4 linked regions of the Homo sapiens genome follow. The protein of the gene in region 2 purifies or fractionates together with the protein of the main gene of each other region. This does not show direct contact. Each region holds a gene or a part of one and is shown on either strand. Other genes may lie near its edges.

Region 1 (7,756 bases), on a different chromosome or scaffold from region 2:
ACCCCTGAAGTGAAAATGTTGAAAACTGAGTCTTCAGGTGAACGAACCACTCTCAGAAGTGCCTCTCCTCACAGGAATGCATATCGAACTGAGTTTCAGGCACTGAAAAGTACCTTTGACAAACCCAAGTCAGATGGGGAACAAAAAACAAAAGAAGGTGAGGGCTCCCAGCAGAGCAGGGGGAGGAAATATGGCTCCAATGTCAACAGAATTAAAAACCTATTTATGCAGATGGGTATGGAACCCAACGAGAATGCTGCAGTCATTGCCAAAACAAGGGGGAAAGGTGGACATTCATCTCCTCAGAGAAGAATGAAGCCCAAAGAATTTCTGGAAAAAACAGATGGCTCAGTTGTTAAGTTGGAGTCTTCTGTTTCTGAACGAATTAGTAGATTTGACACTATGTACGATGGCCCTTCATATTCCAAGTTCACTGAGACTCGAAAGATGTTTGAGAGAAGTGTGCATGAATCAGGACAGAACAACCGCTATTCCCCAAAGAAAGAGAAAGCTGGAGGGAGTGAACCTCAGGATGAATGGGGAGGTTCCAAGTCCAACAGAGGCAGTACTGATTCCTTGGACAGCCTTAGCTCCCGAACTGAGGCTGTCTCCCCAACTGTGAGTCAACTGAGTGCAGTATTTGAGAACACTGATTCTCCCAGTGCCATCATTTCTGAGAAGGCTGAAAACAATGAATACTCAGTGACTGGGCATTATCCCTTGAATTTACCATCTGTTACTGTTACAAATCTTGACACATTTGGTCACCTGAAGGATTCTAATTCCTGGCCTCCTTCAAACAAGCGAGGTGTTGATACAGAGGATGCTCACAAGAGTAATGCAACTCCAGTACCAGAAGTGGCTTCTAAAAGTACCTCTCTAGCTTCGATACCTGGTGAAGAGATCCAGCAGAGCAAGGAACCCGAGGACTCCACATCTAATCAACAGACTCCCGACAGCATTGACAAAGATGGTCCTGAAGAACCTTGTGCTGAAAGTAAGGCAATGCCAAAGTCCGAAATCCCTTCACCACAAAGCCAACTGTTAGAAGATGCTGAAGCTAATTTGGTTGGAAGGGAGGCAGCAAAGCAACAGAGGAAAGAACTTGCAGGTGGTGATTTCACCTCTCCTGATGCTTCTGCATCCAGTTGTGGAAAAGAAGTACCTGAAGATTCAAATAATTTTGATGGTTCCCATGTGTACATGCACAGTGACTATAATGTGTATAGGGTGAGATCCAGGTATAATTCAGACTGGGGAGAGACAGGCACTGAGCAGGATGAGGAGGAAGATAGTGATGAGAACAGTTACTATCAGCCTGATATGGAGTACTCGGAAATTGTTGGATTGCCAGAAGAAGAAGAAATCCCAGCAAATAGGAAAATTAAGTTTAGTAGTGCTCCTATTAAGGTAAGTGTGTTTTCTCCATTTTGTTTTCTAAATTTGTTTTTAGTACTAGGGCCTAATTGTATGTAGAATAGACTTGACAACTAGTAGGAGTTTTTGTAAGGGATTCAAGATTGTTGATACCTTTAAAATCACCTGTTGTCAGGTGATTTTAAAAGTTCAGAGTTTGAGAGATATCAATTACATTTCTTAAATGTGCTTTATAATGGCATACATCAATAGTGAGTAATATTAAAGCTGAAGAAGTTCGGGAATTGTGAGATACGTTCCAATGAACTGGAGTATGAGTATTGTGAGTACTGAAAACCAGGAGTGTTAGTTTGAAATGTAATTACTTTAGTTTTACCTAAAATTATTCATAAATAATATTTTCTGAATGTACACACTTTAAGGTATGAAGTATAATGTACAATGGGAGAGTTTTGGTAATCTGGGAATAATATTCGATTTACTTTCTTAAAAAAATCTGAGTTATTAAGTGTAAGTGGATTGTGAGGAATTTTGTTGGAACTTTTTTTGGGGGGTACTGCTAGTTGGTGGTGAAAATTTAATTTATGGAAATATATTAGCTGACTTAAATACTTTGAAAAGCTTTGACTGTAAACAGTCTGAGTTCAAAATTTGTTACATAGCTTTAAAATGAATTTTTTGAAAGAAATAACATTGATTTGCCATTCATGGATTTATTTTTACCTCTTAAAAACTGGATAAATGCCAATGGAATTCACATGCTCTAATGACTTCACTTAGTTAACATTTGGTATGGAAGAATAGCACAAAGTACATCAGCAGTGGGTGGTAGAATGTTATTAGTGGATAATGGCAATAGGGGCAGGAGGTGGTTGGTTGAGTACCAGAATCTCCTGGGGTGCTTTTTCAAAGTGTACTTGCCCACAGCTCAGTCCTGAGATGCTGGCATGCTCTCCTTGGGGAATCTGGAAGGTTATGGTGGCAGAATGTGTAGTTTTAGACCACATTCTAGGGGCTTCTAGCTTACACAGTGTGTATATATGATAGACTTGGAATTTGATATATTCCTGTAAATTTTCTCCTCAAAATCTAAAATCACTGTCTGTTATTTTCATTTTGGGACCTTCCATATAAGGCTCTAAAATATAAATTTACATAGAAATATTTAAAGAGAAATCTGACATTGTTCTGATTATGAAATACTATTCTGAAATAAAGTAATAATCTATGAAATTATTTACAGATGTTAGCAGGCAGACTTTCATTTTATTAGTGTAAGGCAGAAGTTCTGGGTCAGAATGGGTCATGTTAAGTTAAACTGTAGTTTAAAATAAACTACAGATGTCAATTCAGTTTGAAAGTAAGTTTCTTTGCAGTGCTTTACCACCTTCCTTTGTGATTATCTCCTCCTGCCTTCCTATTCCTCCCCAACCCCCACTGCCCTACTCTAGATGGTCTTTAAAGGTGCCTTTCCCCCAAGCCTATCCAGTGAGCTCCTAAACTTTGCCATTCGCATCCCCCTTGAACATCATCTTTCTACCCTTTAGGAAGAAAGCAATAAGATTAAATCGTTTCACATTGAGAAAGGCAGGAATAACTGAAATGAACTCTTCAAGGAGTTGTTAAACCCAGTGACTAACTTTTTAATACAAGGGATAGCAGCTTATGAAAATTTATCAAGTAGACCACTACCCAGTCAACCAAGTGGGACACCAGCCTGTATTTGGGTCCTGTGCTGCACAAAACATAACTGTGCACTAGTTGGTTTAATGGATTTTAAAGGATTTATCATTGAAATGTGTCTGTTTATATGTGAACAAACCAGCTTTTTGGGAATGATATTTTGAAGTTCAACTAATTTGTGCTATGATTGCTTATAACAATAAGTATTTTGCCTCTTAATTTTCATATAATGACAATTTTATCTAGCAAATAATGAAACATTACCTACATTTAATGCATTTCATCAAGAATAAGATTTCTAAAACAAATTAGATCAAGCATAAGACTTGTGAAACAAAGATAATGTATTGCATTTGATTGGGCAGTTAACAGGACTTCTTGGAGTGGATTAAGTTTGCAAACAGAAGATTCATTCTTAGCCCTTTGTAATGAATAACACAATTACTCTTTCTTGCTGCTTCCATTGTTAAATATGCAAGTGGATTCACTTGGAAAATTTGAGAGCTGCTTTCTACTGGTCATGGTGGTGGCCATAGTGTTTAGGTTATTCTCCAATTAAGATTTTTTTTGCTGCAGAGGGTGGTAATACCTTATTAGATCCAATTAAAGTATTTATTGAAGGCTTATCATGTGTGTTCTCTCATGCTGTTAGCTGAAGAAGACACAAAAATCTGTAAGGTTACCCCTTTCCTCTGTGAGTTTGTAGAGTCAATTCTTAAACACATTGTATTTAAAATCCATAAAAAACAGTATAAAAAACTATGCCAAAATTTTTAATGTCCTGTGAGTCCTTTAGTGGCACTTGGTTGTACTAAATGCATATAGTGAAAGGGATTTGATAGATTATTTGGAAAGGAATACATGCAACCATTTTCTATCTGTGTTTCTTTATTCTTTTCATAAAACTTTATTTATGGAATGGGAAGTTGCAATTCCTAACCTCAGTCTTTTCCTTTGAAGCTTAAACATACTTCCTCTTAAAGAAGCAACAGGGAATGTATTCTTTAAATAAATGATTTTTAGAACTTTTACATTCTTTTCCTGGCTGTCACTTTATTCTGTACTAGGTTAAAAATTCCTAGCACCTTTAGTTTTTTGTTATAGATCTTATTTATCATCTTTGTATGTGTAATATTGTCCTCAGTGACTACTTCAGTTCTTTTTATAGATGTTTTACATAGATATTTCCATAAGATGTCTTAAATCTGGACTTAGAAAAACATCAGAATAATAGTTGATCTTTCCTGTGTAGCATATACCTTGTACTTGTACATATACCTTGATTTTTAAAAATGGTCAGACTGTATTGCCAGCCATCAGTTAGTATGACTTTCCTATCTTTCACAGACAGTTATTTCTTATTAGATAGATTGTTATGTTTCATAGGGTCATGAAATATTAGAATGGGATTAATAATAGCAAATTAAAATCCAACTTTGAGATATGGCATGGGAGAATGTTATGGACCATGCTAATTCGAGATGGAATTATGCCTTCATTTTCAGGAATTTTTCAAAATGAAAGGATTGAATTAAAGTAAATTTGTCTTAGATGAATCAAAACAAGAGAGGGTGACATGTCATTTTTTTCTACTAATTCAGAACATTTATGGAGCCCCTAATATGTGTCAGGGACAATGCAAATATAACAAATACAACAAATACATAAAATGAGGAGCTGATGAAGTAAGGAGCTGCTGGTCGGTGGGACGTGTACAGCCCATTAAGGAAGCTCTCAGGCTGTTCCCAACTCTGTGCTTTGATGATCTTTCTAAGGTTGCTGCAGCCTCATTAAGGAAGTCACAACCTTTCTCTGTTTCTTATGTCCTTTGGATTGGTATTTTTTTTTCCCCTCAAATACTATTGTGTTACAATGGATTGTTATTCTTGAAACAGCATATCTGAAAAAGATTTTTCTAACTCACAGTAAGAAGGATATTGCAGAGTTAATATTGAGGTACATTGTGCTATATTTTGTGTTTTCTCAAATCATATGGAGCTTTACAGGATTAGAATTCAAATAATCAGCAAGGGCACCAGAGCTTCTTCAAACCTTACATGATAGTTGTTGAAAATGGATCTTCTTGTATTCTCTCCCTTTTTGGGGGCTCCGAGTCATAGTTAGGGCATTCATGGATATATGAAGTTTTTTTGTTCAGGATGGTTTTCAGGGAATAGTTCTGTTGAGATCCAACTTTTTGTCTTTGCGGAGGCTTCCTTTATAACAGTTTTGTCAGTGCTTCTTAAACTTTAATATGCATATGAATCACTTGGGAGATCTTGTTAGCATCAAGATTCTGATTCAGTAGGTATTCTATGGGAAATTACCTTGATACAATGGTTGAGCTACAAGTACACCAGCAGGCAAGCTATCTCAGAGGTTATGGAATAGAAGACTCAGAAAACAAATTAAAATGCTTGAATCACATGATTTACCAAACCAGTTAAACACAAATCCAGAAGCAAGAGGAAAGCTATGGAGTAAGTTAACACACTTCAGGTTCAAACCAGGTTGGAAGGACCACGCTACCTGTCCTGGATAAACAATGTTCCTATGTCCCATCTTTCTTTCACATAACCCTTCCCCATTAATGATGTGGTTATGAGGACCAGAGCTGATGTTTGAGCCAAGACTCCATAGACTAATGATTTCCTGGGTCGATGATACACACTTGTTCTGTTGAAGAGATGTGACAAATACACTTAGGTACAGCCGTAGCTTTGCTAGTTTGCCTGCTGATGAGCCATGGGACCATCCTTGGTGTCTTCAGTAGATGACTGATATGGAAGTAATGTAGCTATCAGTCCAGGCATAATGGTGACTTGGTATTTCCACTGCTTTTTGTCTATAAGTAAATCTCATTCATTTTATCATAATTTCTATTTATTTTATTGTTGTCATGTCTTACTCCCAGCTTACCTATTTATTACGCATCTGCTGACTGCCTTCATTTCACCAGCTTGCATTCTCATTATCAATACTTGGCCCAGCCTGAGTGTTGCCTCTGTCTCATAAGTTGTTAGTTTATTTACCATCTATGATTATCACTTCTTAAGTGTTTCATCCATCCCATTAGTTTTGTTTACCTCTATAATAGAATTTCATATTCTGAAATAATACAGGAAAACCACGTTAACAGTATGTCTGGAGGGGAACCTTAGATTTTACATTTCTAACAAGCTCTCAAGTGGTGCCGATGCCGCTGATCAAGAGATCACTCTTTGGAATATGAATTTGAAGTACAATCTTCTGGCTTCTGAAAGTGGCTGGCCATAGCATGTTAGGGAAGCAACATGTAATAAATTTCCTTTCCAGATGGGCTGCTATATCTGGTTGGGTGGAATAATATTCTCTGAAGATGAAATAAGGTATAATCTTGTAAAGTGCATGAATACTCTGTTTCTGGATCCCAAAGTGGATTATTATCCTTAACTCAAGGCATTTGGGTCATTAAAAAGTCACATCCTAGGCTCTTTGTGTGGTTTAAGTTTTTAGTTATAAAAAGTTGGGAGGAAGAAGTTTTTAATGGAATCAGAAATTTCATTTCTTTCATTCTTTTGCAAGTGTAAATTAATAAACTTAGTATAAGAATGGTCATATGATTTAACTTGCTTTTCTTGGATAACTTTGATGGTACAACTTTTTTTTTGTTTGTTTTTTGTTTTTTGTTTTTTGAGAGGGAGCTTTGCTCTGTCACCCAGGTTGGAGTGCAGTGGCACGATCTCAGCTCACTGAAACCTCCACCTCCTGGGTTCAAGAGATTCTCAGGCCTCAGCCCTCTGAGTAGCTGGGACAACAGGCATGCACAACTATTCCAGACTAATTTTTATATTTTTAGTAGAGACAGGGTTTTTACCATGTTGGCCAGGCTAGTCTCGAACTCCTGACCTCAAGTGATCTGACCGCGTTGGCCTCCCAAAGTGCTGAGATTATAGGCGTGAACCACTGTGCCCAGCCGATGGTATAACATTTAAATTGGATTTCCTTTTAAATTTTTATGTTTTATGACCTATGCTTCATAACCAGGTAAATGAAATATGTCAAATATTTTAATATACTTTGTAAAATCAAATAATGAAGATTTGTTGAATGAACCCCTTTTCTAAAATCCAGAGGTATAGCTATACTTTTAAACTGAACAGTGATCATTTAGTGTTTAAAAAGGGATTCTTTTGACAGCAGATTATTTCAGATGTTTACTGGTATTTATTTGTAATAGAAATATTTAAAGTTTCTTGTTTTTTGTTAATTTAATTAATTTTTTTTGAGACAAGGTCTTGCTCTGTCACCCTGGCTGTAGTGCAGTGATGCAGTCATGGCTCACTGCAGCCCTGACCTCTGGGGCACAAGTAATTCTCCTGCCTCAGCCTCCCATGCAGCTAGGACTACAGGCAAGCGCCACCATGCCTGTTATTATTTTTTTTTTTTTTGTAGAGATGAAGTCTCACTATGTTGTCTAGGCTTGTCTTGAACTCCTGGGTTCAAGCGACCCTCCTGCCTTGGCCTCCCGAAGTGCTGAGATTAAAGGCATGAGCCACTGTGCCCAGCAGTTGCTTGCTTTTTGGATCATACATACTTTGTGTTCCCTCTAAACTTTCTCACAAATGACACTAATTGTTGGGTTCATGTACTTGAAAGATAAGATGCCAAATTTGGAGGAAAATCACTTTGTGTTATGTTATCCATGTGTCGTTTA
Region 2 (7,756 bases):
CCTCCTAGTGCAACTGTATAGCTTCATGCCTGTGGTCCATGAAAAAGGTGAGGTCAGGCTATGATTAAAAATTCAGAGAGATGCTTTATTCAAATTCTGTAGGACACTGAGTCATAAGTGCCAGTGTTCATGTAGCCTTGTTGGATTTCAGAATATTTAAAGAGACAAAGGTACACAGAGGGGAGAGCACTGAGAGGACTCTGATGCCATTTGGTGCTTAAGAACTTGCATCCATCAGTTGGGGTGGAGGGGGTGTCCAAGGGGAGATGGTGGAGTCCAGAAGGCATGACTGCACCTGGTAGAGCCTCAGTGGTTTCCAGCAGGGAGTGCTAGGACAGAAGAGGAGAAAAGTAATAAATGTGAAGTGGCTGAAAGGACCTGTTTGTACAACACATCCTAGGGAATCTCAGAGGGACCTGGAGGTGCTTTGTTGAGGTCTGAAACCAGGAGAGGCAAGGGACAAGAAAGCACTAATGCGGTCACAAAAATGCAAAAAACAACTGGCACTAGTAAAAGTGGATATAACAAGAAGATCTGGCCATTGATGAGATGATGAGAGAAGGCCTCAAAATAACTTAAGATAGCAAGTCTTGGCGTTAAGACAGCAAAAATTATGAAGCTACTGAAAACATTAGGAAATCCAGGAAGAAGAATCTATTGAGGAACAAGAGATGGGGTTATGAGTTCTATTTTCTAAAAGTTGGGGAAACATTCAACTGGAAATGTCCTTAATTAATTAATTAATTAATTCAGTCATTCACTCAACAAGTATTTATTGAGTGCCCTTTATGTGCCAGGCACTCTTCTTAGTGCCAGGGACACAACATTGAGCAAAGCAGATTCCTGCCCTTTAGAATTTAAAGTTTATTGTGGGAAAGAGAAGATGGAAAGACAGAAAGTTCAAAAGTAAACAAACCAATAAATACATCATATGAGTTGCAAGACTGTAAAGAGGGTGAGATGTCATGGCTGCTGATGTAAATTTGTCAGTCAGTAGTTCCCAACCACTATCCATATTAGTATCCTCCAACAAGCTTTTAAAACCATTGGTCTCTGGGCCCCAGCCCTGGAAATTTTAATTTTTTAGGGTTGTGGCAGTGTCTGGGAATCTGCATTTTCAAAAGCCACCCAAGGAATTTTAAAGGGTGTGGAGGTTTAGGACCAGTACTGATCTATTAATACTAATCCTAAATCAAGCCACACGAAGGCCCAACCTCTCTGAAGAAGCAGTTAGAACAAGAAAGTGTCAGAGGGCCAAGGATGGTTCCACTCTGCTGCACCTCACAGCCTGAAAAATATCAGTTCTTAAAATCCCATGTCCCCGCCCACTGACCTGTTCCTCTCTCTGTCTGAGTGAACAATGAGACGAAAAATCACTTTCTTTTTTAAATCACACTGGAGCCAAAGGGTGCTGTGACTAAACAAAGTTAGTGGAGAAGATAGATGTTGGGAAGACCTAAATTTAGTAATGGCAAAAACCATTACTTTTGGCAAAAACTGCGATTACTTTTGCACCAACCTAATACTTGAGTTGGTTTCATTGGCAACAACTAAAATGACTTGCTAACTGGAGGAAAAATGATTTGTATCAAAATTCATATACATGCACATGTCAGAAAATTGGCATTGTACTTTGTAGTTTTCTTATCTTTGTTGAAATCTATTCCAACTAGTTAACAGATAAAAGCATGAAAGAATTCATTTTTATGGACCCATTTGGTTCTTAATAATATAATTCATTCTTATATAATGCTAATACCCATGAACCAGATCTCCTCCTGGAATAATGCCTTGGGTTCAGTAGGCCCCACTAAATACTTACTGAATAAATGAATGAATAAAAGCTTCAACCAATCAAATCCCTTCAGTCCTTACCATCCAAGATAGGAATAATAAGAATGAAAGAGGGGGTCGGGCGCAGTGGCTCACGCCTGTAATCCCAGCACTTTGGGAGGCCGAGGGGGGAGGTGGATCACCTGAGGTCAGTAGTTCAAGACCAGCCTGGCCAACATGGCGAAACCCCATCTCTACTAAAAATACAAAAATTAGCTGGGTGTGGTGGCCTGTGCCCATAATCCCAGCTACTCGGGAGGCTGAGGCAGGAGAATCGCTCGAACCTGGGAAGCGGAGATTGCAGTGAGCCGAGACTGTGCCATTGAACCCCAGCCTGGGCAACAAGAGCAAAACTCTGTCTCACCAAAAAAAAAAAAAAAAAAAAAAAAAAAAGAATGAAAGAGAGGGATTCTCTGAGATACAAGATGAGAGCACTCCATGATGGTGGTAGGTAGACAGTGAAGAGATCCCTGGGAAATTTTTACTTAGCATTTCCAAGACTTAAATTAAGGACACGACAATCCAATTTTTACATTCTTAGACAGCACTGTGGACCCAGACATTGGCATTCAGAGACGAGACTATCACCACCACCAGGCGGGTTTGACTTCTGGCTCTGCTCCCTCCAGATATATGATCCTGACAAATTTCTTACCCAAATTGTGCCTCAGGTTCATCATTTGTAAAATAACTATGATAATCATTCTTACCACATACAATCAAAGTGAGAATTAAACAAAGAATCAACCTAAAACACCTGGCAGCAGTGCCTGGCACGTGATAAGCACTCCATATGTTTGTTATTATTACTGTTTTCATTCTGATCACTTCTCCTTTCATGGAAACAGTCTTCTGGTTCCTAGAATACATAGTAAGTGAACTCAGAAAACCAGAATTCAATGTCATTTTCTTGCCCACTCTGGCTCCCTGCCTCATCACCTCATCATCTACATCACCCCCCTACCCCTGAGAAGAGGGAAAAACAGTTAGAAAAAACTCCACATCTCCCTCTCTTAAAATTAACCTGACAATAAAATCTCCCTTGACTGACTATAGCTGTCAACATGGCCTGTTTTCTTGATCTCTGAGTAGGATGCTGGAATTTCTCTCCCTTAAGTACTATATGAAATGCCTTTCAGAATATAGTGACCTGGAATTCATAGCAATTGATGACAAAAACCATATGGATATCAATGTTTCCTCAGAATGGATCTCCTTGTGTAAGAGCTTATGCAATACCCAGCTCCTCCCCTTCCCCAGTTAGTTGCAGCCGCCCTGGGTCACGGCACCACGGGTTACCACCACAGTGCATCAGCTCTTAGGCAATTCCTCTTCAGCTTAAAGGGAACCACTGTTCATCCCTGCGCTTTCTTGAACCACAGCTCTGAACTAGAAAAGAGTGGCATTTGGTTTTCTATAGAGCGTTGCACATTCCAGGCCTCTGAAATCATTTCACAAACAGAGGTCCTGAGTTCAGCAGCTGTGCAGGCAAACAGCAACCATTCTGCCTTGACAACACACTGAACATGTGGCTGCTTTAATCCAGAGAGAAAATGTCTTCCTGGCTATCGGCTGGCTCTCCGAGCTCTTTATCTGTTGTAAGATGAGCAAATCATCCTGGCTTACTGGGGTCTGTCCAAGTTTCAGTACTGAAAGTCCTGCATCCCAGGGAGCCCTTCCACCCAGAACAAAGCAAGATGGTCAGTCACCTCATAACTGCTGACAAACTGGGCAGCTCCCAAAGCCTGACAAACCATGAAGCAAGTTGGGTACTGAGAGATTTAACTGTAGGGCCAGCACTTCAACCTAAAAAGCAATTAGGGCTATGAGCAGATCAAAGACAGGCTAATGGGTTGGGTTCTGATTCTGAGTACCTATATGCCTTAAGGATCTCCATCAATTGCCTGTTTTATCAACATTGGTTCCATTAAATCCATACAACACAGGATAGTAAATATGCTCCATTGGCATTTGCTTCCCATCCAGCCCTGGCAAATGCAGTAGAGTGATGGTGATTGTAGAATTAAATTTCCCACTTCGCATCTCAACTGCTCCCTGCCCCTGCCCGACCCTCATTTGCTAGATAAGTCTTTTTCCTTCCTATCTTTCCTTCTTTGATCACAAAAGAAGATTAGTCTAGCCAGGCCTTGGGTGATAAGTTCCTGTCACTTCAACATTGAAGTTAAAACTGTACATCTGTTTTTATGTCTTTGCCGGAAAACATACACACTTATCTTAGATGGACAACACACTGCTATTCTAGACTAGTATTCAAATAAACTTTGTCTTATTTCTAATGGTTACAGGTTGCAAAGAAATTATCTTTGAAGATGAATGAGGTTGACTTCTATGAGCCATTTATGGATGAGCCCATTGCCATCCCCAACAAACCTTACACAGAAGAGGAGCTGGTGGAGTTTGTGAAGGAACACCAAAGGTGCCTGAGATGGCATGTGGGGGCTGGGGGCCTGGGGTCTGGGGAATGGAGAGGAGCCTCTCTGTGCTAACATTTCAGACCTGCCAAGAGCAACAACCTAGTTAGTACCCCAGCAGTACAGAACTCAGTAGTATGGCTTTGTTGATCAGTAATGACTAGCAGGGATGTTATTACTTCTGAATCTAAGTCTGCACCTGCAAGCAGAGTTTGATAAATCCCTCAGTCAGCAAATCCCCTCAAAGCCAGGGCAAGATATAAATAAAATTCTATACTAGGAATGAGAGCAATTTAGTGAAAGTTCCCATATACCAATAACCATGCCCAGTGCTTTAGGGAAACTATTTTATCTAATCTCCAACCTTAGGGAGTAATTATTATTATCCCAATTTTACAGATCAAGGAATTGGACTCAATAGTTAAGTAACTTAGCCAAGGATGAACACTCTATGCATAGAACTTCTGGGAGAGAAATGCTTGATACCACTTAGTGTAGCTCCAGCATGGATCAGCAAACTTTTTCTGTAAAGAACAAAATGGTAAATATTTCAGGTTCTGTGGGCCAGATGGCGTCTGTAGCAACTACTTAACTGCGGCTGTGGCATGAAAGCAGCCATGGATCATGTATAAACAAATGGGTGTGGCTGTGTACCAGTAAAAGTTTATTTAGGAAAACAGGAGGCCCTGGCTGGATTTGTCCCACCAGCTGTAGTTTTTTGACCCCTGCTCTTGAGGGAGGGAAGATATGGGAATATGGAACATGGTAGTGGACTCACTGGCTTGTCCCTCCACCCTACCTGGCATGTACACGAGTGTGTTCATTGGACCTGCAGTACTGTGATCCCCCTCACCTGGACAGTCCTAGTTCCTTCAGGAAGGCAGTACTTGGAGGAGCAAATATTAATATGTCCAGCACTATTTGCCAATATTCAGAAAGAAATGAAACTATGAGCAAAATATAGATCCTGTCTGCTCCCCTAAATATCCCTAAAGGACTTTCAATGTATACACCAGATGATAAAACAAAGGCAGTTTTAACCTACAAAATCCGAGATTTCCTGTTTTCCCCCTCAGGTTTCTCATTCCAGGCCTGCTGTGGGCTCTCTGGAGTGGTGGCTATCTGTGAGGAAGGAAATGGCATCTTGCCCTGGGAATGAGCTGACCCTGTGCCCTCTGACCCATTGTTTGTAAAAGACTTTATAATTCTTGGATCAGTGGGTCTATGAAAAGGCTGAGTGCCTTGGCCCAGCTCGCTGTCTGACACAGCAGAGTAGAGCAGGTCTGTTTCCTTAGAAGATAAGTGGGTTTTTAGGGCTCTCCCTGCCTTGCAAAGGAAGCATCATCTCATTTTACATTTCATAATGCTGTGGCTGCTGTGTCTGCCACAGTGATCCCTACTCAAGGAAGCTCTTTCTTTTTTTTTTTTTTTTTTTTTTTCCAGACCCACTCTACGTCGCCTGCGCCCAGAAGAAATGTTTGAAACATGGGTAAGAAAGAGGCAAACTCTCTTTGCCTTGTAGAGATGAGTATAGTCCCAAAGAGGAGTGCTTCTTAGATTAAGTCCCCAAACTCAAACCAAGTTTATTTGGCTGAGGTGGATGTCTAGATGAGTATTTGAAACATGGACAGATTGGGTACGACGGCTCAGAACTGTAATCCCAGCACTCTGGGAGGCCGGGGCCAGGGATCACTTGAGTTCAGGTGTCTGAGAGCAGCCTGGGCAACATAGCAAAACCCTGTCTCTACAAAAAAATGCAAAAAGTAACCGAGCATGGTCGCATGTGCCTGGAGTTCCAGCTACTTGGGAGGCTGAGGCAGGAGGATTACTTGAGCCTGGGAGGTCAAGTCTGCAATGAGCTGTGATCCTGGCACTGCGCTCCAGCCTGGGCAACAGAGTGAGACACTGTTTCAAAAAAATGAAACAAAACAAAACAAAAACATGGACAACTTCATGCTCAATTAAAACACAGTTCTCCATGGATCAATCCAAGCCTCTTTGGTACTACTCACTAGGCAAAATTGCTCTTAGTTAATTTCCTGCAGTGACTATAGCTTCTGTTCATTGATCATCAGAGCCACACAGTAACACAGTGGAAGGAACTCAGGCTATAAAGTAATAGAGACTAGGGTTCAAGTCCAGAATCTGCCACCTAGTAGCTTTGTGTACTATGTCAAGTCCTGTGGCCTTTCTGAGCTGTCTAAATTTCCTCATCTAAAATTGGGACTTTTTATAAGGATGAATATGAAGAGTTCACTATATGGTAGCTGTTTTTTAAAAATATCAACTGAAGGCACTGGCAAGCAGCTGAGCCAACTTGTCTTCTAGGTTTGTGTCATGGATAATATGTCAGGCAGCTCAAACAGTGTTAGATAGAGGGCCTTGGAGATAAACCCCCAACCCACACCTTATGTACAGAAGTTCATAAATAACAAAGGCTGTGGAGCATTTTTCAAAGCATTTCATGCATCTTTTTATTTGGATCTTCCAATAGCTCTAGAAAGTGATGTAGAACAAGTATTATTAATTAGTCGGGCATAGTGGGGCACGCCTGTAGTCCCAGCTCCTTGGGAAGTTGAGGTGGGAGGATTGTTTGAGCACAGCAGCTTGAGACTTCAGTGAGACATGATAATGCCACTGCACTCCAGCCTGGGCAACACAGCAAGACTCTGTCTCCCCAAACAAACAAACAAAAACCAAATACTATTTTAGCCCCGTTTGACATAGTCAGAAACTGACGCTCATACAGATTAATCACTAAAAGACACATAACTAAAAACCATTAGTTCTTGGAACTTAAATATAAGCCATCTGGAGCCAAACCTGGTGTTCTCTGCAGAATGCCTCCCCAGAGTGACTATGTCCCCACAAGGGGCCATTTGGTGTGAGGGCTGGGAAGGAGGAGAAAGGAATTAACACGGAAGTATTTATCTGTTTAATTCTTTGAAGTGATGGATGAACAGAACCAGGGAGCAACTTGACACTGTTTTACTGGTCTGTAACTTACTTGGATGTTTGAAGGTAGAGCAAACATTTCACAAGATACCAAAGGGTAAATAATCCAGTCCAGAGGAGCGGACTATTTAATAACAACTCAGCACAATAGAAACAAACTTTCCTAACATTTAAACCTTTCAAAGATATTAAAAGGGTCTTATCGCTAGGCATAGTGACTCATGCCTGTAATCTCAGCACTTTGGGAGGCCAAGGTGGGCAGATCACTTGACGTCAGGAGTTCGAGACCAGCCTGGCCAACATGGTGAAACCCCATTCCTACCAAAAAATACAAAAATTAGCCGAGTATGGTGGCAGGCGCCTGTAGTCCCACCTACTCTGGAGGCTGATATAAGAGAATCACTTTCATCTGGGAGGCAGAAGTTGCAGTTAGCTGTGATTGCACCACTGCACTCCAGCCTGGGCAACAGAGTGAGACCCTGTCTCAAAAAAAAAAGAGTCTTATTAATGTATTTTAAAATAGTAATAGCAAAAAG
Region 3 (7,756 bases), on a different chromosome or scaffold from region 2:
CCTACCTCAGCCTTCCAAGTAGCTGGGATTGCAGATGTGTGCCACCATACCCAGCTAATTTTTAAAAATCTTTTGTAGAGAAAGGGTCTCACTATGTTGCCCAAGCTGGTCTTGAACTCCTGGGCTCAAGTGAGCCACTGTACCTGGCCCTGCCCCATATTATTCTTGTTTTTTGGTTTTGAGATGGAGTATTGCTCTGTCGCCCAGGCTGGAGTGCAGTGGCACGATCTTGGCTCACTGCAACCTCTGCCTCCCGAGTTCAAGCAATTCTCCTGCCTCAGCCTCCTGAGTAGCTGGGATTACAGGTGTGTACCACCACACCCAGCTGATTTTTGTATTTTTAGTAAAGACAGGGTATCACCATGTTGGCCAGGCTGGTCTTGAACTCCTGGCCTCAGATGATTCGTCCACCTCGGCCTCCCAAAGTGCTGGGATCATAGGTGTGAGCCACCGTGCCCAGCCCCCATATTATTATTATCAATTGAAAAACTCAAGGCTTTTCTTGATCTTGGGACATTGATGTTTAAATTAGTGCTAGAATTAATCTGTACTTCATGTTTGTTATTGTTAATATTATAAAATAAGGAGTTCTGACTTGTCTCCTGTTTTTTTCTCTAGAAAGAATGTTTTCACATTAATTAGGAGGTAACTTCATATCATTACAGAAAGCTTTTCTAAAATGCCTAATCCTGTCATAATTCTAATTCTATTTTGGCTAAATTTCATTTTTGTCTTGATGTTTTCCCTCTAGGCTGAAAATCTATTGTTAGATGCCGATATGAACATTAAAATAGCAGATTTCGGTTTTAGCAATGAATTTACTGTTGGCGGTAAACTCGACACGTTTTGTGGCAGTCCTCCATACGCAGCACCTGAGCTCTTCCAGGGCAAGAAATATGACGGGCCAGAAGTGGATGTGTGGAGTCTGGGGGTCATTTTATACACACTAGTCAGTGGCTCACTTCCCTTTGATGGGCAAAACCTAAAGGTATAAGAAGCTGCACCCATGTACTTCACTAAACTAAAAGAAGTTTCCTAATATTACATGGCTTAATATTTTTAACATTATATCAGTGCGGGGGGTTTCAGGGGGTTTTTTGTTGTGTTTTGTTAACTAAACCTAAAGGTTGACTTACTCGTTTTCTTTCCTCTGTACCTCTCCAAAGGAACTGAGAGAGAGAGTATTAAGAGGGAAATACAGAATTCCCTTCTACATGTCTACAGACTGTGAAAACCTTCTCAAACGTTTCCTGGTGCTAAATCCAATTAAACGCGGCACTCTAGAGGTAATCATGTAGGTGGAAACAAGCAGTAACTTTGGAGAGTCTTTAGAGTGACCTTAGATCTTTGCTTGATTTGTATGCCATACTGGATATATCCTGCGGCTTTTTAAGCAAGAATTGAAACATTAAAAAATATTTTTTGAGTTTATGCTTTGAACGATAGTCAATGAAATGTTGAAAATAAATTTTTGTAAATATTACGGTTATCAGAATATTTCATTTTACTCTGCTAATGAACAGTTTACCTTTTTTAGCAAATCATGAAGGACAGGTGGATCAATGCAGGGCATGAAGAAGATGAACTCAAACCATTTGTTGAACCAGAGCTAGACATCTCAGACCAAAAAAGAATAGGTAATCACTCCATGCCTGCATGTTCATGTGTTTTTGTCTAAGTAACATATTTCTGTTTTGACTCATGTCTGTGCCTAAAATGTGAATAATGGAAAGTTAAGCACAAGTCATATGAACAGTTTATCTGTTCTGTCATATTTAGGAACGTAACTACCTGCAGTTTCCTATAATGGCACCCAGTAACTCTGAAACAAGTGCCCATTTATGTTACAAAATATATGTAATATGTCATCTTTTAGGTCAAATGAAAATTATTTTACCCTACAAAAGAATGATTTCTGGCCGGGCGTGGTGGCTCACGCCTGTAATCCCAGCACTTTGGGAGGCCAAGGCGGGCAGATCACCTGAGGTCGGGAGGTCGAGGCCAGCCTGACCAACATGGAGAAACCCCATCTCTACTAAAACTACAAAATTAGCCAGGCACGGTGGCTCATGCCTGTAATCCCAGCTACTCGGGAGGCTGAGGCAGGAGAATTGCTTGAATCTGGGAGGTGGAGGTTGCGGTGAGCCAAGATCGCGCCATTGCACTCCAGCCTGGGCAACAAGAGTGAAACTCCGTCTCAAAAAAAAAAAAAAAAAAAAGGATGATTTCTTACCCAAACAAAACACATAAACTGTATTATGCCCTTCTTTTAGATATTATGGTGGGAATGGGATATTCACAAGAAGAAATTCAAGAATCTCTTAGTAAGATGAAATACGATGAAATCACAGCTACATATTTGTTATTGGGGAGAAAATCTTCAGAGGTAAGAGTAATCAGAAAGAGCTGAAATACCCTGTATGTAATTATTAGTTTATATAAACTGTTTTCTTAGTTTTTATCTTTTGAATATTTGTAACATTTGATACATCATTTTTTAGATTTACTTGCAAATAGCAAATCTAAATCCTATGACTATTATAAGCTATTTTAACTTAACCCTTAATGATGGATATTGGCCAGGCGTGGTGGCTCATGCCTGTAATCCCAGCACTTTGGGAGGCCAAGGCGGACAGATCACTTGAGACCAGGAGTTCGAGACCAGACTGGCCAACATAGGGAAACTCTGTCTCTGCTAAAACAAACAAACAAACAAAAAATTAGCTGGGCGTGTTGGCGCTTGCCTGTAATCCCTGCTCCTTGGGAGGCTGAGGCAAGAGAACTGCTTGACCCTGAGAGGCAGAGGTTGCGGTGAGCCAGGATCACGCCACTGCACTCCAGCCTGGGTGACAGAGCGAGACTCTGTCTCAAAAAAAAAAAAAAAAAAAAAAAGATGGATGTTGTCATAAACCTGGTCTTTCATAAATTAACCTGTAGTCATTAATAGCTTAGAAATGACGTAAAGCATCAGATGAAGTAAATACAACATTTAAAGTTATTTGAGAAAGCCTGGAAAGAAAATCATAAATACCTTACCTTTAGTGTCTTTCCAGCCGTCAGAAAACTACTTTTGCTTGAGTTTAGGGTTGTCATTTTTGTACGTTGTGATTCCTCCTCTCTCTGAATGAACGGTTTATGAGAGGTCTGTGTTAATGAAAAGTTTAACTTCCTAATAAGCCATTTGGGTTCGTGTTGTGGTTTGCTCTGTTTTTCTCATTTTCTCTTAGCTGGATGCTAGTGATTCCAGTTCTAGCAGCAATCTTTCACTTGCTAAGGTTAGGCCGAGCAGTGATCTCAACAACAGTACTGGCCAGTCTCCTCACCACAAAGTGCAGAGAAGTGTTTCTTCAAGCCAAAAGCAAAGACGCTACAGTGACCATGGTAAGTTTTGGAGTATCCCAGTGCCTTCTCTTAGAGTCCAGGCAAGAGGTCTCCTAGCACTGGGAAGCATTCTCTTGCTCAGAGCCTGGCTTGATGTCCTTTCTTGGCATTGCTTTCTTTCTTTCTTCTTTTTTTTTTTTTTTTTTTTTTTTTTTTGAGACAGAGTCTCACTCTGTTGCCCAGGCTGGAGTGGAGTGGCACAATTTTGGCTCACTGCAACCTCCACCTCCCAGGTTCAAGCGATTCTCCTGCCTCAGCCTCCTGAATAGCTGGGACTACAGGTGTGTACCACCATGCCTGGCTAAGTTTTGTATTTTTAGTAGAGACGGGGTTTCACCACATTTGGCCAGGCTGGTCTTCAGCTCCTGGCCTTAAGTGATCCACCTGCCTTGGCCTCCCAGAGCGCTGGAATTACAGGCATGAGCCACCGTGCCTGGCCAGCATTTTTTCTTAGTGTTCCTGCAGGTGCTGCCATGATTACATATTACTTCAAGGCTCTTATCTTCTTTATACATGCAGTAGATTTTTGCTGGATAAAGCTTAGTTGAGTGGAAACCTTACCATTTGCCCTTCTAGAACCTCTGCTTTAATCTGTAGTTTTCCTTTTTTTTTTTTTTTTTAAATGGAGATGGGGGTCTCGCTATGTTGCCCAAGCTGGTCTCAAACTCCCAAGTTCAAACTATTCTCTCACCACAGCGTTCTAAAGTGCTAGGATTACAGACGTGAGCCACCATGCCCAGCGCTAGAACTGGGCGCTGTACCGAACTGAATAGAACTGCTAGTCTGTAGTTCTATTCACTCTCTTCACCTCTGCATTGGATTTACTTTGTAGAGTAGCACTGTCCAGTAGAACTTTCTGAGATGATTACAGTTTTGTGTATCTGTGCTGTCCAGTCAAGAAGCTACTGGCCACTTGTGGCTATCAAGTACTTGAACTGAGGAAATGATTTTTACCTTTTTTATTTCTATTTATTTTTTATTATTTTTATTTATTTATTTATTTATTTATTTTTCAGATGGAATCTGGCTCTGTCGCCCAGGCTGGAATGCAGTGGCATGATCTTGGCTCACTGCAACCTCCACCTCCCAGGTCCCAGCAGTTCTCCTGCCTCAGCCTCCTGAGTAGCTGGGATTACAGGCATGCACAACCACACCCGGCTAATTTTTGTATTTTTAATAGAGACAGGGTTTCACCATATTGGCTAGGCTGGTCTTGAACTTGGGAGCTCAAGCAATCCACTCACCTTGGCCTCCAAAAGTGATGGGATTACAGGTGTGAGCCACCGCGCCTGGCCTTATTTATTTGTTTATTTTTTGAGATGGAATTTTGCTCTTGTTACCCAGGCTGGAGTGCAATGGCATGATCTCCGCTCACTGCAACCTCAGCCTCCGAAGTAGCTGGGACTATAGGCACACACCACCACACCTGGCCAATATTGTATTTTTAGTAGAGACGGGATTTCACCATGTTGGCCAGGCTGGTCTAGAACTCCTGACCTCAGGTGATCCACCCACCTTGGCCTCCCAAAGTGCTGGATTACACGTGTGAGTCTGTAATTGGCCTGGCTGATTTTTACCCTTTTAAAATTTTCCTGGCCGGACATGGTGGCTCATGCCTGTAATTCCAGCACCTTGGGAGGCCGAGGCGTGTGGATCACTAGGTCAGGAGTTCGAGACTAGCCTGACCAACGTGGTGAAACCCCATCTCTACTAAAAATAAAAAAATTACCTGGGCATGGTGGTGTGTGCCTGTAATTCCAGCTACTCAGGAGGCTGAGGTAGGAGAATCGCTTGAACCTGGGAGGCAGAGGTTGCAGTGAGCCAAGATCGTGTGACTGCACTCCAGCCTAGTGACAGAGTGAGAGTCCATCTCAAAAAAAAAAAAAAAAATTTGTACTTAAGTGTAATATATAGCCAGTTGTGGCCAGTAACTCTCATAATAGACAGGACAGCCCTGGAGAATATATGGAACCTCAGTTTTGCCTTAATTGGTTTAAATGTTGTACTGTGTCATTCTCATCCATACTCTTGCTGTTAGTGTGGTTAAGCCACTCTCCCTTTTAAACTTCACCTAGAAGCCAGTCCTTTATGAGACATAAGACTCCCAGTGGGTAGGCTTACCAGGCTCTACAGTTGCTCTGCCTTCAAGGCAGCCTGTGTGTCAGAGTCCTGAGGCTAGCGTGTGTGTTTACTTGCCCATAACTATAAATGTTAACATTGCAGATATTTCCTTTAATTCTACTATTCCAGGATTCAGGAACTAAATCTATTTTTTTTTTTTTTTTTGAGATGGAGTTTCACTCTTGTCACCCAGGCTGGAGTGCAATAGCGCGATCTCGGCTCACTGCAACCTCCGCCTCCTGGGTTCTAGCAATTCTCCTGCCTCAGCCTCCCGAGTAGCTGGGACTACAGGCATGCATCACCATGCCCAGCTAATTTTTTTATTTTTAGTAGAGACGGGGTTTCACCACATTTGGCCAGGCTGGTCCCGAACTCCTGAACTCAGGTGATCCATCCACCTCAGCCTCCCAAAGTGCTCGGATTACAGGCATGAGTCACTGCGCTCGGCCTCATTTTATTTCTCTTCTCTGGACATTTTCCATCTTAATACTTTCATCTTGAGATTTGACACTTAGGACTGCACAGGGCATTTTAGGTGTGGACAGCTTTGATTTTGTACTAAAAATGATTACACTTGGCTTGATTTCCATTTCTCTTCCTTCTGTTGCTTGCCTTTCTACATGGTTTAGACTGAAGCAACAGTGTACTAATATCACTAGTAAACCATCTACAGTGCCTGCTATTCTAGGGTGTAACTGAGAGCTCAGAACTCATTCTCACATCAGGATTTGTGCTCCTAGCATTTGTAGGTGACGTGTTGATCTAGGTCTGCCTTTTTTGTGTTCATGTTAGTCACTAACAAGGGGGGTTTCTAGTGCTTATGGACCACATGGCAATTAAATGCCCATATATTGCCCTGAAACCATCTGGTTTAACTTGTCCCTCAATCCTAGAAGAAACCTGACAATGGGATTTTCACATTTCTCTAAGGAATATGTTAGTAAGTTATTCCTTAAGCACATAGATTCCATCCAGATTATTAGTGCCTTTTTCCCCCCAGCTCAATTTTAGAGATAAAAAGAGCTTTAGACATGGTATTGTACACTCACCAAACCTCTGTTTTATCCCTAAATAGACCAAGAGAGATTACCAAGTCTCCCAAGGTTACATAGTAAATGAGAAACACCTGGGGCAGAGCTCAGGCCTGCTGGTCCAAGCCCTGTGTTTTTTCTCCACTGAAGCACCTCATTGGAGTAGCTTTTTCATAATCCTCATCTTTCTTGGAATTTCTGAAGGCAGGCAAGCCTGTATAGCCGGGCTAACTTTCACCTCATCCTCCTGCCTCGTCTCACCTCTCCCTTCCCTTTTCCTTGCCTGTGGATGCTGACCTCTGCATGGGTGCCTGCTTCTCTAAAGCTACGATGTAATCTGTAGCTGTCCTTCCTCGTTTGAGACCCACATGTGAACACCCCATATGTGTGCACTTTTTCTGCGAATGGTGATCATCTGATTTTCAAGGGGTTAGCTTGTTTTTTAAAAAATGAAAAAAAAAATCACTGTTTACTAATCAATGAGTGGTATTGGGGCAATTTGGTAGTTCTCAGAAAAAAAATTAATTTGGATCAATTTCTCACATCTTATACAAGGATGAATTCTAATTGGAGTTAAGATACAAATATAGGGCTGGGCGCAGTGGCTCATGCCTGTAATCCCAGCACTTTGGGAGTCCGAGGCAGGTGGATCACGAGGTCAGGAGATCGAGACCATCCTGGCTAACATGGTGAAACCCTGTCTCTACTAAAAAATAGAAAAAATTAGCCAGGCGTGGTGGTGGGCACCTATAGTCCCAGCTACTCAGGAGGCTGAGGCAGGAGAATGGATGAACCCGGGAGGCGGAGCTTGCAGTGAGCCGAGATCGAGCCACTGCACTCCAGCCTGGGCGACAGAGCGAGACTCCGTCTCAAAAAAAAAAAAAAAAAAGATGTAAATAAAACTCCAGAAATATTGAAAGAAACCTTGGGATTATTTGCTTTGTAACTTGGACTGGTGAAGGTGTTTCTGTCACCCCAAACACCAAACCCATGAAATAAAAGACTTACAAATTTGATTACATAAAAATGAAATTTCTGGCCGGTCGCATAATCCCAGCACTTTGGGAGGCCGAGGTGGGCGGATCACGAGGTCAGGAGATCGAGAACATCCTGGCTAACACGGTGAAACCCTGTGTCTACTAAAAATACAAAAACAAAATCAGCTGAGCTTGGTGTCAAGTGCCTGTAGTCCTAGCTGCTCAGGAGGCTGAGGCAGGAGAATG
Region 4 (7,756 bases), on a different chromosome or scaffold from region 2:
GGAGGGAGGTATAGAAAAAAAAAGTGAATGAGCAGGGCTTTTTGAAGGTTAAACCTGCAGTTGGGGTCCATTAGTAATCAGAGGAACTTTAGGCCGCCCTGCTGAGGGATTATGGGAAAGGTCAGGGACGGGAAGGGCAGGAGGTGTAACCTTCCCATGCTGCACAGAGCAGTTCTTCCAAATTCTTCCTATTCCCTCTCATAAAGGGACAAAGCTAAGCATTAAAGAGGAAGAAAGGAACCATGAATGAAAAAGATTCTTCCTTAGGGGATTTAAAAAATTAAAATGTATGTACAACAGTGGTTCTCAACTAGGGAGATTTTGCCCTTCTGAGAACATTTGGCAATGTCTGGAGACATTTTTGGTTGTCACAACTGGATGGGGGTCCCTAGTGGCATTTAGTGCATTGTGGCTGCAAAACATTTTACAATGCACAGGACAGCCACTGCAAAAAAGAGTCATCAGGCCAAAATGTTGCTAGTGCCAAAGTTGAGAAACGCTGGCAAAGAAAACGAGGAAGCATGTTGGAGTGCCAAGGACACTGGATCGAGAGTCAAGGGCTTTGCAACCTTGTGAAGGGCCGTGTGACCTTGAGAAAGTCATTTCTCTTCTTCTGGTCTGAGACATTGAGAAGGTTGTCAAGGGCTGTGCAACCTTGAGAAAGTCATTTCCCTTCCTCTGGTCTGAGACATTGAGAAGGTTGAACTAAATGGCAGACTGAATCCAGCAGTGGTATGTATCGTTCTAAGATAAAATTTGACTTTTATAAGGCTGCCTCTTTGGATGTAAGAATAGGTCTAGTCAAAAGGGGGCCTGGCTTCTGCCCTGTCTCCTTCTCCTTCTGTATCTTAATCCCTCCCTTCCTTCCATCTGCAAATGGTTACTGAACATCTACAATGTGCCAGGCATTGTCAGAGGGAGATAGAGGGCTAGAAATGCAAAGCGGTAAATGTGGATGCTCCCTCTGGAGCTTTCGGTCTAGTAGGAGGGAGAGACAACTAACAAACAGATCTAGCCTGTCAGGCAAAACACTGGGAACGACGCCTAATGCTATAATTCACCCAAAAGGAAGGTAAGTAAATATTTGCTCCTAAAAGACAGCCTGAACAGAAATGTCAGGAAAGATGGAATAGAGATCCCTCCAAGGCAAAGGCACTTGGTTTAGCAGGCAGGCTAGGGTAGTAATCAGAGGTTTGATGTCAGCACCAAGTCCATGGTCATGGCAGAGCCCCGGCCCTTGGCACCTTGTTTATGTTGATGTGCAGAGGAGGCCAGGGTCCAGCAGCCTTCACAGTTTCCAGTTCCAGCTTCTTTAGATGGGCAGCGGCTTCACTGAACAAGGCAGGTGTTCCTGGACTCAGTTCTACAAAGCAGCCAGGAGAAATAAATAAGGAAAGGTTGAAAGGACAGATAGATACAGGGGAAAAGGGACACTTGCCAGCGCCCGATTCCCAGCACCCTTTCTGCCGGCCTCCTCCTCCAGCAGCTCTCATGCCTTCAGTATGCATCAGCTGATAGGGTGTGAGAATATCTGAGGTCAAGGTTTCAAGGCTTAACTGTCCCACACATGAGCTGGACGCCCCTGGGTACGTTGTTTTGCCTCTCTGACCCTCTGAGCCATTTAAAAATGAAAATAAAATTACTTACCTTGCAGGGTTGCTGTGAATATCCAATGAAGTCATTTATGTATAAATGCTTTAAAAATGGAAAAGCATTATGCAAATTGGAAAGATTAGTGTTCAGGCAAACAGGCATATAACGTGCCCTTAAAAGCCATGTTATGTTCCTAAAATCAAATCCATTGATTTTTATTTCTGTGCTACTTTGGATTCATTTGCCACTACTTCTCCTTCCAGCTTGAATTTACTCATTAATACATTAAATATTCATTAAATATTAAATATTCATTACATATTAAAACTTGTGCCAAGTATCGTTAGCAACTGGGATCTGGGAGCTGAAAGAAAGAGGTGAATGAGACAAAATTTTAATCTAATGGGGATGACGGACACATGTGGAGATATTCCGAAGAAGACTGAGAAAAGGTTTATTTAATTGCTAAAGGAGCAGGACGGAACTGAGGATGGGTGTTAGAGAACATTTCACTGACAAGCGAACATTTGAATGGGCTGCTAAGGGATGTGTAGGAGTTCAACAAGGTGGGGAAAAGTATTCCAGGCAAAGGGAACAGCAGGTGCAAAGGACAGAGTTGAGACCCAGTAGAGTATTTTGTAAGAAGAGAGTAGTTCTGTGTAGCTAGAGTATGGTGAGGAGTGGAGGGAAGAATGAAGACCTTGGCAGGGGTCAGGATACGCAAGGTCTGTGTATGGCCCTGCTCAGAAGCGAGGACTTTATCCCAGACAGTGAAGAGCTAATGAAAGGTCTTATGGCATGTGGTCAGAGTTATGTGGTGAGAACTATGACTTTGGCAGCTACTATTTGGAGATTGTCCTGGAGCGGGTGCCCCTTAGGAGGCTGTTATGGTTATTTAGATATACAAAGATGAGGCAGGGACTAGGGCATGGGCAGTGTGGATAGTGATGAGGGACAGAGTTCGGATTCTTCAATACCAAGTGGGTGTCGAGTTTCCATTTCCAGCTCAGCTGACACAGAGTTGTTCCCTGTGGCCCCAAGGTGAAGGTTGGATGGCCCATCCTGTCTCAACAGCTCACAGACTCACACAATATCAGAGCTGGAAGATTCCTTGGTCATCATCTCAATACCCTCTACCCTATTTCATGGATGAGAAAATAGAAGATCAAAGAGGGAACTCAGTTCAAGGGTAAGAGCTAGAATCGAAGCCTCCACTTCAGTACTTTTCTTTTCTTTTCTTTTCTTTTTTGAGACAGAGTCTCACTCTGTCGCCCAGGCTGGAGTGCGGTGGCACCATCTCGGCTCACTGCAACCTCCACCTCCCAGGTTCAAGTGATTCTCGTGCCTCGGCCTCCCAAGTAGCCAGGATTATAGGTGCACGCCACCAGGCCCAGCTAATTTTTGTATTTTCAGTAGAGACAGGGTTTCACCACGTTGGCCAGGTTGGTCTCGAACTCTTGACCTAGGCGATCCACCCATCTCGGCCTCCCAAAGTGCTGGGATTACAAGCATAATTACAACCTCTGCCTCCAAGTTTCAAGCGATTCTCCTGCCTCAACCTCCTGAGTAGCTGAGATTATAGGCACGTACCACTGCGTCCAGCCCTCAGTACTTTTCAAACCACATTTGATAAACAACAGGTTCTTTTCATACCAAAGATGAATTCTTTGGTAACGTATAATAAAAGTGAGTTTCTAGAAAAATAAAATAACGGACATGCCGAATCAAAGCCCATATTTTTATTAGATTTAAAAGATATAAACTCATTCTATCATATTGCTAACAATATTTCTGGGCTGGGTATGGTGGCTCATGCCTATAATCCCAGAACTTTGGGAGGCTGAAGCAGGAGTGTTGCTTAAGCCCAAGAGTTCAAGACCATCCTGGGCAACATGGCAAGACCCTGTCATAAAATAAAATAATAAAATTTCTAATTGCTCACTCTCTATTTTTGTAACTTCTCTTTCTGGGACCCATAACAGTAGACAGATTGGATCTACCTGACACCACTTTGCTCTCCCAAGTGGAATGTCAAAAATGGGATAGAATGAGTTTTTCTATGATGAAGAAAGTAGAAAGTCCAGCCATCACTCCCCTCCCCTCTTTCTCTTTTCCATTGCTCAAGCCAGTGCTGGGTACCACAGAGGCAGAGAACTGTTAAGAAAGGAGGTGGAGGCGGGGCACTGTGGCTCACGCCTGTAATCCCAGCACTTTGGGATTTTTTTCGTCCAGCTCTTTTGTAAGGCACTAATCTATTCATAAGAGTGGAACTCTCATGACTTAATCACTTTTCAAAAGCCTTCACTTCTTGACCGGGCATGGTGGCTCACGCCTGTAATCCTAGCACTTTGGGAGGCCGAGATGTGTGGATCACCTGAAGTCAGGAGTTTGAGACCAGCCTGGCCAACATAGTCAAAATCTGTCTCTACTAAAAATACAAAAATTAGTTGGGTGTGGTGGCACATGCCTATAATCTCAGCTACTCGGGAGGCTGAGGCAGGAGAATTGCTCGGACCTGGGAGGGGGAGGGTGCAATGAGCCGAGATCATGCCACTGCACTCCAGCCTGGGTGACAGAGCCAGACTCCAGACTCCATCTCAAAAAAAAAAAAAAAGAAAAGAAAAAAAGAAAGGAGGTGGAGAACTGTGACCCTATAATGAAATTAGAGTTTACTGGTAAACCATAATCCCTAAAGTGCTTCTGCTCAAATGCATAAGGCTCTTGTCTACTCTGGCCCAAACCCGGTAGCCCAGCATAACATGACAACCATTGTGTGCTGCACCGCAAGGGTCTGTCTTAAGAATCTAGGGAACTCTCGTGCCCTGCAGCATTGCTCCCCCTTCTCCTGCCTTGCCCCCTCCACCCCTACTCACTTGTAAGGGACTTGCTGCTGGAGTTTGGGGACCTCAGAGGCCCCTCTTTGTTCTCCAGGGTCAGTGAGAGGCTGTAGTTTGAGTGGTGCTGGTGCTGATGCTGATGCTGGTGCTGGTGGTGATGCCTTCCTGAAGCTGCGGTGAGGAACGGTGTGCCCCCATTCTCCTCAATGCCAAAAGGCAACCGGTCCGAGCTGCTAAGCACTGGGGAAGGGAGCGGGTAGCTGTGGAGGGTGACACAGTCAGGATTTAGAAAAGCAGAATGCCTTGCAAGCCCTCTGTGTACTTTCAAAGACGTTTTCTAGGCATTAAACACTGAAAGAAATAAACTCAAAAACTAGATCTGTAGTTATTATAAAGTATATACAATGGTAATATTATACTTAAGAAAAAGAGCAAAGTGGAAGTTTGTATATATCAGAGACTTTAAGTCTTGTAACTTAAAGAAGTATTTGAAATTAAATGAAATAATATTTATTTCTTTTTTTTAAAGGCATTCTCTAAATGAGAGGAAGAGGTAAAAACAATAATAAAAAATCATTTGTAAATAATCCTATGACAAGATCATAATGCAAACTAGAAGTCTTGGGGTCAGTTTCTCTTCCTCTCTGTCACCCACAACATGCAGAAAGCTCCAGTTAACATCAGTGCTGCAACATCTTTTTCTTGAGACAGGGTCTTGCTGTGTTGCCCAGGCTGGAGTGCAGTGGTGCAAACACAGCTCACTGTGGCCTCAAGCTCCCAGGCTCAAGTGATTCTCCCACCTCAGCCTCCCAGGCAACTGGGGCCACAGGGATATGACACCATGCCTGGCTAATTTTTAAAATTTTTTGTAGAGACAGGATCTCGCTATGTTGCCTGGGCTGGTCTCAAACTCCTGGGCTCAAGTGGTCCACCCTCCTGGGCTTCCCAAAATGCTGGGATTACAGGTGTAAGCCACTGTGCCCAGCTTACAACATCTTTTAATTCCAGTGGACCACCTCCTTTTAAAAAAAAAACAAAAAACAACTAGGATTGCCCCATTTGAAGGCCGTGTCATCTCCCACCTAGACTCTTGTAACAGATTCCTGCTGGCTCTCCCCGTCTCTGCTCGTTCCTTTAGTCCATCCTCCACAGAGTAATTGCCAGAGTGCTATTCTAATTACATTCCAGACCATGCTCTCCTTCTTCAAGGAGCTTGAATATATCTCTAATACTAATAATTCTTTTTTTTTTTTTTTTTTTGGCAGTGTCTCACTCTGTTGCCCAGGTTGGAATACAGTGGCACTATCTCAGCTCACTGCAACCTCCACCTCCCAGGCTCAAGCAATTCTCATGCCTCAGCCTCCTGAGTAGCTGGGATTACAGGTGCACACCACCATGCCTGGCTAGTTTTTGTATTTTTAGTAGAGATGGGGTTTCACCATGTTGGCCAAGCTGGTTTCAAACCCCTGACCTCAAGTGACCTGCCTGCCTCAGCCTCCGAAAGTGCTGGGATTACAGGCATGAACCACCGCACCCAGCCTAACACTAATAATTCTTAACCACTTTAAGACAGAAACCCCTTTGAAAATCTGGTGAATACCACGAACCTTCCCTGTACCAACAAACAACATTCTACACACAATATCAGGCCCTCTAGAGCCTCTCCATGGACCCAGGTGAAGAGCCCTGGCTTGAAGGATAAAAGCCACAATCCTTTATGTGGCACTGACAGCACCTCCCCCCGCCCCCAGTCTTGGCCCTTTCTCTTTTCAGCCTCATCTCCTGCTACATCCTTCTACTTCCCACCCTAACTCCTTCCCATCCCGATGCCTCTTACTTCTTGGTGCCTCCTGAAGTCCTTCCTCATCTGTCAACCCAGTGAAAATACCCCTTCTTCCAGGAAGACTTCCAGCCTTTAAGACCCAGATAAAGATCCCTTCCTCTTATTCCCTGGCAGGGCTAACCCCTTTTTCTGCTCATTCCCATGGTTCAGATCTCTACTGCCCACTCTTTCACTCTGTCTTCAAGGAACTCACACTCCAGAGTAGGAAGCTCTGTGATTCAGTCACTTACAATCATACTAGAACAAACTGCTAAGAAAATGCAGAAGTGGAAGCAATCAGTTCTCCTGGGGGAAGGTGTTTGTAAGGGAAAGAGCATTCGGGGGAAGACAGTTAGGTTTTGCTGGACAGTTCTTGAAACAGAATCTTCTTTCTTATAGGAAACCCCATTCCTTGTGTTTGTATGGGATTGACATTTCCTCCTCAGGGGTGGGCCTGAGACTTGAGCCTGGCCAATCAGAGTCCTGCATCCTTCTAATGAGAGTGTTCTGGAATGTCATCCAATTAGGGACAATCAGAGTTTTTCCTAAGATTTAACACATGAAAACTGAAAGGAAGGCTCTCTCTTTCTTTGTAACAGGCAAGCAGGGCCTTATTGTGCCTTTTTGTGCCACAAGCACTTTTGCCTTTGTCCATTTTCTTTCCTTTTTTTGAGATGGAGTCTCGCTCTGTCGCCCAGGCTAGAGTGCAGTGGCGCGATCTCAGCTCACTGCAAACTCCGCCTCCCGGGTTCACGCCATTCTCCTGCTTCAGCCTCCTGAGTAGCTGGGACTACATGCACCTGCCACCACTCCTGGCTATTGGTTTGTATTTTTAATAGAGATGGGGTTTCACCGTGTTAGCCAGGACGGTCTCGATCTCCTGACCTTGTGATCCACCCGCCTCCCAAAGTGCTGGGATTACAGGCGTGAGCCACCGTGCCTGGCCACCTTTGTCCATTTTCTATAAAAATTAACTAAAAATTAAATTTCACAACTGCATAAAAGTAAATATGTTAATAACATATACTAAAACATTTTCTTCAACGGAAAATCCATTTTTTTCTTATTTTAAAAAATATTTAAAACCTTTTCGTGGGCCCCTGAAAGTATTGTGAGTCTAAGTATTGTGTGCCTACTGTGTGTAATGGGTAAGCTGGCTCCGGCTGTAAGGATGATGGAAGTTAGGGCTCTTTGTGAACATCTTTTTTGGACACAGAGAAGTAGTCCCTGTGAGACTGAGGCCAATGCACAAAGAAAGACAAGATGAGCAGAGGTTAGAGGTAGTCAGAGAGAGAAGAAACTTAATGGTATCATTTTAGCTCCTGGTTCCAGCCACACCTGAAGCTGGCATTACCACTGAACTTTTCCATTATAAGCTCCAGTAAATGCCTTTATTTATTTATTGCTTGAAGTACTTGGGTTTTTCCAATTAATAACCCACATGCTTGAAATCAGAGGAGGTGTGTTATTTTGTCATTTGTGTGTGTAGAATTTCTTTTCAGTG

What was found.
Region 1: the proteins of CASQ2 (region 2) and PPP1R9A purify together in Homo sapiens (affinity purification with mass spectrometry; 3 studies listed by BioGRID and IntAct, with this or other methods). This does not show direct contact.
Region 3: the proteins of CASQ2 (region 2) and MARK3 purify together in Homo sapiens (affinity purification with mass spectrometry; 3 studies listed by BioGRID and IntAct, with this or other methods). This does not show direct contact.
Region 4: the proteins of CASQ2 (region 2) and EPB41L4B purify together in Homo sapiens (affinity purification with mass spectrometry; 3 studies listed by BioGRID and IntAct, with this or other methods). This does not show direct contact.

Annotation. Positions count from the first base shown.
Region 1 is NC_000007.14:94,910,099-94,917,854, forward strand, and holds part of PPP1R9A (neurabin-1), read left to right. Parts: 5' UTR 1-15; coding exon 16-1,410; intron 1,411-7,756. UniProt on the Homo sapiens protein: Binds to actin filaments (F-actin) and shows cross-linking activity. Binds along the sides of the F-actin. May be involved in neurite formation. Inhibits protein phosphatase 1-alpha activity.
Region 2 is NC_000001.11:115,723,506-115,731,261, reverse strand, and holds part of CASQ2 (calsequestrin-2 precursor), read left to right. Parts: intron 1-4,139; coding exon 4,140-4,270; intron 4,271-5,708; coding exon 5,709-5,754; intron 5,755-7,756. UniProt on the Homo sapiens protein: Calsequestrin is a high-capacity, moderate affinity, calcium-binding protein and thus acts as an internal calcium store in muscle. Calcium ions are bound by clusters of acidic residues at the protein surface, especially at the interface between subunits.
Region 3 is NC_000014.9:103,464,806-103,472,561, forward strand, and holds part of MARK3 (MAP/microtubule affinity-regulating kinase 3), read left to right. Parts: intron 1-751; coding exon 752-988; intron 989-1,166; coding exon 1,167-1,286; intron 1,287-1,537; coding exon 1,538-1,637; intron 1,638-2,273; coding exon 2,274-2,386; intron 2,387-3,227; coding exon 3,228-3,381; intron 3,382-7,756. UniProt on the Homo sapiens protein: Serine/threonine-protein kinase. Involved in the specific phosphorylation of microtubule-associated proteins for MAP2 and MAP4. Phosphorylates the microtubule-associated protein MAPT/TAU. Phosphorylates CDC25C on 'Ser-216'.
Region 4 is NC_000009.12:109,212,456-109,220,211, forward strand, and holds part of EPB41L4B (band 4.1-like protein 4B), read right to left. Parts: intron 4,691-7,756; coding exon 4,467-4,690; intron 1,364-4,466; coding exon 1,245-1,363; intron 1-1,244. UniProt on the Homo sapiens protein: Up-regulates the activity of the Rho guanine nucleotide exchange factor ARHGEF18. Involved in the regulation of the circumferential actomyosin belt in epithelial cells.